Linked DNA regions of Homo sapiens. The protein of the gene in region 2 interacts with the protein of the main gene of each other region in a biochemical or structural test. Each region holds a gene or a part of one and is shown on either strand. Other genes may lie near its edges.

What was found.
Region 1: the proteins of HLF (region 2) and BATF3 interact in a test that uses a peptide from one of them, tested with the Homo sapiens proteins (one large-scale study listed by IntAct).

The regions. Positions count from the first base shown.
Region 1 is NC_000001.11:212,693,147-212,696,966, forward strand, and holds part of BATF3 (basic leucine zipper transcriptional factor ATF-like 3), read right to left. Parts: coding exon 3,815-3,820; intron 1-3,814. UniProt on the Homo sapiens protein: AP-1 family transcription factor that controls the differentiation of CD8(+) thymic conventional dendritic cells in the immune system.
Region 2 is NC_000017.11:55,267,882-55,271,701, reverse strand, and holds part of HLF (hepatic leukemia factor), read right to left. Parts: coding exon 3,616-3,820; intron 1-3,615.

The DNA.
Region 1 (3,820 bases), on a different chromosome or scaffold from region 2:
ATACCTTGCCTCCAATAGTAGATTTAGTCATCCAATGATACACACAGCTACAATGCCCTCCTGGAAGGAACAGGGAAGGGATTACTCACGTGGTGAGTAATGATTTGGTTCAGAGATGATGTTCCTTTGGTTCTGCAGAAGGTTTGGGATATACTTCCATTTTCCTAAGCCAGTCGTCTGCTTCCTCACCCGCTTGTGACCAACGACACTTGTGTGGAGCTAGTGAGGCTAAGGTGAGGGCTACAGCTCTGGGGTCTGTATACAGGTGGAGCCGCTGTCCTGGCCTCTTTGACCCTGTGATTCTCAATAAAGCTGGTCTTGCTGAGGTGATCTGCCAGTGGAGAGTAATCCTGACCCATTCCTTCAGCCCCACAGAGAGAGAGGAGAAGGGGGTGCTCTTCCGTGGAGTGTCTGGGCTTCAGATCAACCCACCCCATTTCTGAAAAGGGCAGCTGGCATGACTGTCATGCAACACAGTCTCTGGGTTGGAGAGCAGGCCAGGGACCCTACAGAAGAGGTCTCCACCCCACAGTTCCAAGAGAGGTCAGATAGGGGTAAAGGTGGCACCACTCTGAAGTTCCCAGGCACCTGGTTCACTCAGTTATCAAATGCAGCAGTGACAGAAAGTGCGAGAGAGCCAACGCTTCATACAGGTACTTTTTTGATATTGTAGTAAAATTCCGTGAGTATTTACATTTACCTTCTGTGCTAGGCAGCATAATCGATTCACTCCTCACAGAAGTTTACATTCTAATCTCTTGAACCTGCGACTATGTCACCTTACATAGCAAAAGGGACTATGCGGATGTGATTAAGAAGCGTGAGATGGGGAGACTATCCTGGATTATCCAGGCAGACCCAACGCAATCATAAGGGTCCTTGTAAGTGAAAGAGGGTGTCGGGGAGTCAGAGAAGATGTGACAACGGAAACAGCACCAGAGTAACGCAGCCTGAGAAAAACGCAACCGGCCATTGCTGGCTCAAGGAGACTACAAGCCCAGGAACACTGAAGCCTCTGGAAGCTGGGAAAAGCAAGAAAACGAATCTTCTCCAGAACCTCCAGAAGGAAGGCAGCCCTGCTGCCATCTTCATTTTGACCCAATATGACCCACTTCTGATGTGTGACTGCCAAAGCTGGAAGATAGTAAATTTGTGTTGTTTTAAGCCACCAAATGTGTGAGAGTTTGTTTCAGCAGCAGTAGGAAATTAACATCCTTTCCTTGGGAAATTCTAGGCTTCCCACCGACAGGCAAGGCATGAGATCTTCCTCCTCTCTTTGTGACCCAATGGCAATGCCTTGGTATTTGTGAAATGGATCTACTCGACTGTGCTCCATGAAAGATCTTGTCCAAGATATTGTCCTCCAGATACGTATTCAGTCCAGATTTACAACTGATGTTTTTAAAACTAGTTTTTAAAAATATTAATGTACCTGGCTGGGACTAGGAGCTTCTTCAGGAGTAATGCCTTGGCCATCCAGCAGCACATGTGGTCTGAATACAGGGCCATGCACTAACTGGGAGCCACAGGTCCCCTCTGGGGGCTATTTTGGTAACATGACACTAGAACCACAATTGCTTCAGGAGCAAGGGGGAAGAAAGAAAGGAGGCAAAGGGCATTGCCGTTCTTCTGTGGAAATTCTTCAGAACAAAGGCTAGGAGGCACCTTCTGTGACACTAGTCTAGAGACCTCAGTCTCTTTCTAGGGCCCAGCCTTCTTACTTCTAGGAAAGAATCTGACATTTATGATTTATGCCACACTGTGAATTTATATCGGAAGGTCACCTCTCTGTGGAGTATGTACATTCTAAATTTGTTCTCTGTTCATTGTTAGAGTTTTAAGATTGCCCTTTTCCTCTCCTCTCCCCAACACACCTCAGAGTTTCCATGTTGCCAATGCCCCAGAATGGCCTTGCTGAGACGAGCATGGCAGGAGACCTGGCACAATGCCTCATGCCTGTAATTCCAACACTTTGCAGGGCCAAGGCAGGTGGATCGCTTGAGTCCAGGAGATTGAAACTACTCTGGGCAACGTGGCAAAACCCCACCTCTACAAAACTACAAAAATGGCCAGGCGCAGTGGCTCACACCTGTAATCCCAACACTTGGGAGGCCGAGGCGGGTGAATCACGAGGTGAGGAGTTCGAGACCAGCCTGGCCAACATGGTGAAACCCCATCTCTACTAAAAATACGAAAAATTAGGTGGGTGTAGTGGCGGGCGCCTGTAGTTCCAGCTACTCGGGAGGCTAAGGCAGGAGAATCGCTAGAACCCAGGAGGCAGAGGTTGCAGTGAGCTGAGATCATGCCACTGCACTCCAGCCTGGGCAAACAGAGACTCTGTCTCAAAAAAAAAAAAAAAAAAAAAAAAAAACCTACAAAAATAAGGGCTGAGGGGATGAGGTGGGAAGATTGCTTGAGCCTGGGAGGTGGAGGCTGCAGCGAGCCATGATCATGCCATCACACTCCAGCCTGGGCAACAGAGCAAGATCCCGTCTCAAAAAGACAAGAAAGTATAGCAGGAGAGAGCTAAACTAAAATCTTTAATTACACACACCAACCCCGACAAAGACAAGAACATGGAATGGTGGCCCATTCCTCAGATAGATCCTTGGATGCTTTCAAGGCCAGTTCCTGGTATGGAGCAGCTCCACGTCCCAACTGCAGGATTATGCAGGTGTATGCATGAGGGCGGAGGGAAAAGGAATGGCTTAGGATAAATCCTAGGCTTCTGATTTGAGTGATGAGAAAGATGGTTCGCTCCATTAACTGCAGTTTGAAGACAATGAGAAGAGAAAGTCTCAGGGTAAACGGACAATAACACTCTTTTATGGATGTGGTACATCACAGGAGCCTGCAGTGGACCCATGGAGAAACAGCTCAGCAGACACTGAAGCTATGGGGTCTAGGGTCCAGGACAGAGGGCCTGCCTGGAGTAATCAATGTTGGGAGCTGATGCTGGGAGAACAGATTAATAGATTAAGTCTTCCAGGGTGAGAAAAAAAAAAAAGGGCAGAGTTTGAAACACTGGTCACCACCAACATTTAAGCCAATAAAGGGTCGAAGGCTAACAAAGAAATAGAGAAAAAAATCGGCGAAGAGGGTTAGGAAAACTAGGAAATGTGGTCTTTTAGAAGCAAAAGAGGGGAAAGCTTTAAGAAGAGATGGGTCCAAAGTGTCGAATGTTCTAACAAGGTAAAGGATGATGAGACCAGAAAGAGAGTCCTGGATAGGGCAGTGCCAGGGCACTGATGGCTGCAATGGGAGCAGTTTCTGTAGGGTGTGTGTGTGTGTGTGTGTGTGTGTACACACACACATTGGGTACATGTGTGAATGTGTGTGTTTGTTTGTGTGTATATATATGTGTGTTGAGTGGAAAGGGGGTAGCAGAAATTAAATCACAGAGGATTGGGGAATAACCAGGAACCAGGGACACAGAGACAACAGGTGTAACTACTCTTTTTTAAGAAGCAAAGATGTTAGCGGATTACTTTGGAGGGAAACAAAACAAAACAGGAAGTAAGGACGTGAGGGAAGAAAAGAAATGGAGCAAGAACTTGAAAGGGAATCAGGGTCCAGAAGAGGCTCTGTTTTGTTTTATAATGAAATAAACTTGACCATGAGAAGCACTCAGTGGATGAGGGAGAAATGAACACGTCCGTGAGCAAACAGTGAGAACACTGGGCTGGAAGGACCTGGCAGAAATTAGATATGAGTGTTGCTGAAATCGTGATAAAGAGAACAGTCATCACCCCCACTCCCGTGCAAGGCAGAGGCTGTGTGGCTCTAAGGTGGCTTGCCCCTACCACGGTCTCACCTCATG
Region 2 (3,820 bases):
AAAAATTAGCCGGGCATGGTGGTGAATGCCTGTAATCCCAGCTACTAGAGAGGCTGAAGCAGGAAAATAGCTTGGACCCCGGAGGTGGAGGTTGCAGCGAGCCAAGATTGTGTCACTGCACTCCAGCCTGGGTGATGGAGCTAGACTCCATCTCAAAAATAAATAAACAAATAAGTAAATAAATAAATAAATATTCACAAGAATGCTCACCTTGTCATTCCAAGACATCCTTGGGGTAGACCTAGAAATGCATACTTTATCAGCTCATGGTTTCATTGCCCTTCAACCAAACAAGAAGCACTAACACCACAACGGAGCATAGCTCAAAAGATGCATGCTGAGTGAATAGCCAAAAACAATTGTTTGGTAAACTACTCTGCAATTATCTCCTGATTAGCCTGATGGCTTAGTTTTATTAACTAAAGTGTATAATTATGCTCTTATTAATATTCTATTTCTTCTTGGCAACCCAATGTCCCCTGACCTTCTTAAAAGTTTTGCCATAAAGCATTGCAGGTAGTTTATCCATGCGTGTGACAGGGTCCTAAAGTAAGTCCAGATTTTGCTGTCCAAATTGAAGTTCTAGACCAGTGGTTCTCCACCGGGAGTGACTGTATTATGCCCAGGGGACATTTGGTAGTGACTGAAGACATTTTTACTTGTCACATCTGGGGCACTGGGGGTCCTACTTGCAACTAGGAGGTAGGGGCCGCGATGCTGCTAAGCATCCTATAAAGCGTAAGACACAAGATTTACCCAAGGCCGGGCGCGGTGGCTCACGCCTGTAATTCCAGCACTTTGGGAGGCCGAGGCGGGCGGATCACGAGGTCAGGCGATCGAGACCATCCCGGCTAAAACGGTGAAACCCCGTCTCTACTAAAAATACAAAAATTAGCCGGGCGTGGTGGCGCTACACGGGAGGCTGAGACAGGAGAATGGCGTGAACCCGGGAGGCGGAGCTTGCAGTGAGCTGAGATCGCGCCACTGCACTCCAGCCTGGGCGACAGAGCGAGACTCCGTCTCAAAAAAAAAAAAAAAAAAAAAAGATTTACCCAAAACATTAACAGTGCCAAGGTTGAGAAACACCAATCAAGACTGAAATTATACAGCTCCCAGAATGACCAAGGCTACATCTGTGCTCTTCCCTTCTGAGGACTTATTTTCCTCAAGATTAACTTGGTACTTCTATTCTGGTCACTCCTGTGAGCCACACAGAATAATCAAGAACTTTCTCCTTTTTCAGGTTTGCTTGCAATATCCATCCATCAGGCCAACATCTCTTAGAATTTTATTTTGCATCTTTATAATGATCAACAATCTATGAACAGCAGAGTGTTATTTTACCTGAGTTTGGTATTTGAAGACGAGGTTTAACTTTTTTCCTTTTCTATGAGGACTATCGAGTTTTCAACTCCAAGAAGGAAACTATGTTGAAGTGTGTTTCCATTATTTAAAATAAGACATTTAAATGGAGAACTTATTTCTAGACCCTCAGTGTTCCCTTTGATCCCAGTGTCTTTCCACCAGAACCTTACAAAATGACATCCCCTGAAACTCAGGAGTTCTTTGCTATGCATTGCAACTCTGATTGGGCATTCCAAGCCTTCTGAGAGTCACTGATCAATACTGACTCTAATGAGCTCTGACAAATGAGTTTTCAAGCTGCTTCAAATCCCAAAACCCCAATTTTTGACTCTCAGTAGGAACCAAGGTGTGAACACCCAATATGTGCAGGTCTCCTGGGAAAAAATATAGTATTCCTAACATGGTACACATCCTAAATTTGGTAGGGGACTAAGAAATACTTGTCAGTTGATTACAAGTGTTGGTCAAAATACCCCAATCCAGTAACTACTGGGCAAAATCTCCTGACATTTCTCTCCAGAGGAAGGGTTATATACAGTACCTAGTTACCTTACGAAGATATTTCAGAAGACAGGGATTGAAATAAGTAATAAAAGTTGACACATACAACAATGATCACAATTGCTTCCACAAATAGAAGACTCATTGCTAATCAGTTGACCCTTTATACGTATTATCTCTAATTTTCACAATAACTCAATCAAATAGAAATTGTATCCTTCTACAAAAAAGGAAACTGAGGCTCCAAGAAATGATGTTGCTTTCTAAGGTCACACAGCTACAAAGTGGTGATTCTCAGTCTACAGAGCACAATGACCGAGGCATAACTGTGTCTCTCACTGGGGCTCTGTTCCCTTCTCTCCTGGCTGTTTTCCCACTTTGAAGGGTTATTCATTTTGTTGCTTGTTCCTACAAAAAAATTGAAGATAGTGGTACCGCACATTCTAAGTAGCAGGGGATCAGGATCACATAAAGGCATGTTTTCCCAAGCTCCCACAGCCTCCAGGGGTGGCTGGAGGCTAAGAATTAATTCCATTCCAGCCAGTGGCCTTGAGTTATAATTCAAAGTGAATTTTGGAGAAGGGGCCAGCACACAGAGGTCTGAAAGGAGGAACTTCAATATGAATATATCGAGGCAGGGGTATTCTCTTCCTCCTTTACATCATTTCCTTCCATTTAAATCTTGCTCCATGTGCCACAGAAATTTCTACAAGAGTCGAGGACACGGAGTTCAGTAACAATCTCTAGCACAAGTTTCGCATTGTCCTGCTTTCTGTCTTCCCCCACAGCTAAGGCCCTCAGCTCTGTGACCTTCCGGATGATTTATCTGGCTGAATCTTTGTTCCTGGTTACCTGTGCACATGAAATCGTCTTTCTTCCTGTTCATTTGGTACTACAGGGTGCTAAAGGCATGAATTCAAAGCTCCTTCAATCTGTGTTTATATCTGAGCATTAGCAGTGGGTTTTGAAGTACTGGTCATTTCAGGTGATATTTTTGTGTACTATTTCAAGATCATTTACAGCTGACCTTGCAGCCTTGTGGGCTTTGATACAGGTGGACTGAGTGTGATAGACAGATGAAAATGAAAAAAAAAAAAAGATAAGAACAGTTGGGTTTATGGGAATAGCAACGAGAGAGATGGAGTCTGGTCCTGAAGAAGGCTCAGAAACACAATATGAGAGCCTGCTTTTAGATTCTACTTCTCAGCTAATGACAAAACAAGATGAAAAGGATGGAAAAAAAAATACCTGCCCCATATCCCTACTCACATTTTTTTTCCTTCAGGACAGACAAGAGTGAATATAGGTAAACCAAACCCTATTGAGAGTCTACCTGTTATCTACGTGTTTAGGGAATGAGGAAAAGAGATACAAGATGCGATGGAGGCTTAAATTATCCAAATCATTAACTGTAAGTTATTTCTTAAACTGCAGCCCTTGGATCAGCTGCATTAGAATCCCATGGGGGAGCTGGTTAAAATGCATATTCCTGGGCCCTCATTCCAGACTTGCAAAATCAGAATTTCTAGGGGTAGATACAAAGAGTCTGTATTTACCGGACTCTCCAGATGAGTGATATGGATGCTCATTAAAGTGGGAGAGCCTCTGCCAGGAGTGGAGCAGAAGAAGGTACCTCTCTTAGGATCTTTGCTAAAACCTGAGTGTTAAGATGTTTATGCTAACTCTACCTTGCCTGTCCCATTCACCCTCCTCCTCCCTTTCTGAAGGGAGAATCTTCAGGGCACTTACCTGGTCTGATGGGGCTCTGCATACAGTTCGGAGATGGGATGCCAGGGTGAAGGGGTGCAGAGGCCCGGCTGCTGAGGTCCATGACCGAGGGGGCAGCCGAGGAAGCTGGCTGCAGCCCAGGAGGGTGAGGGCTGTGGTCATGCTGAGATGGGCTGGGGGGAATGCCATTTTCTGACAAAAACTCCTCCAGGTCCATGTATTCCAA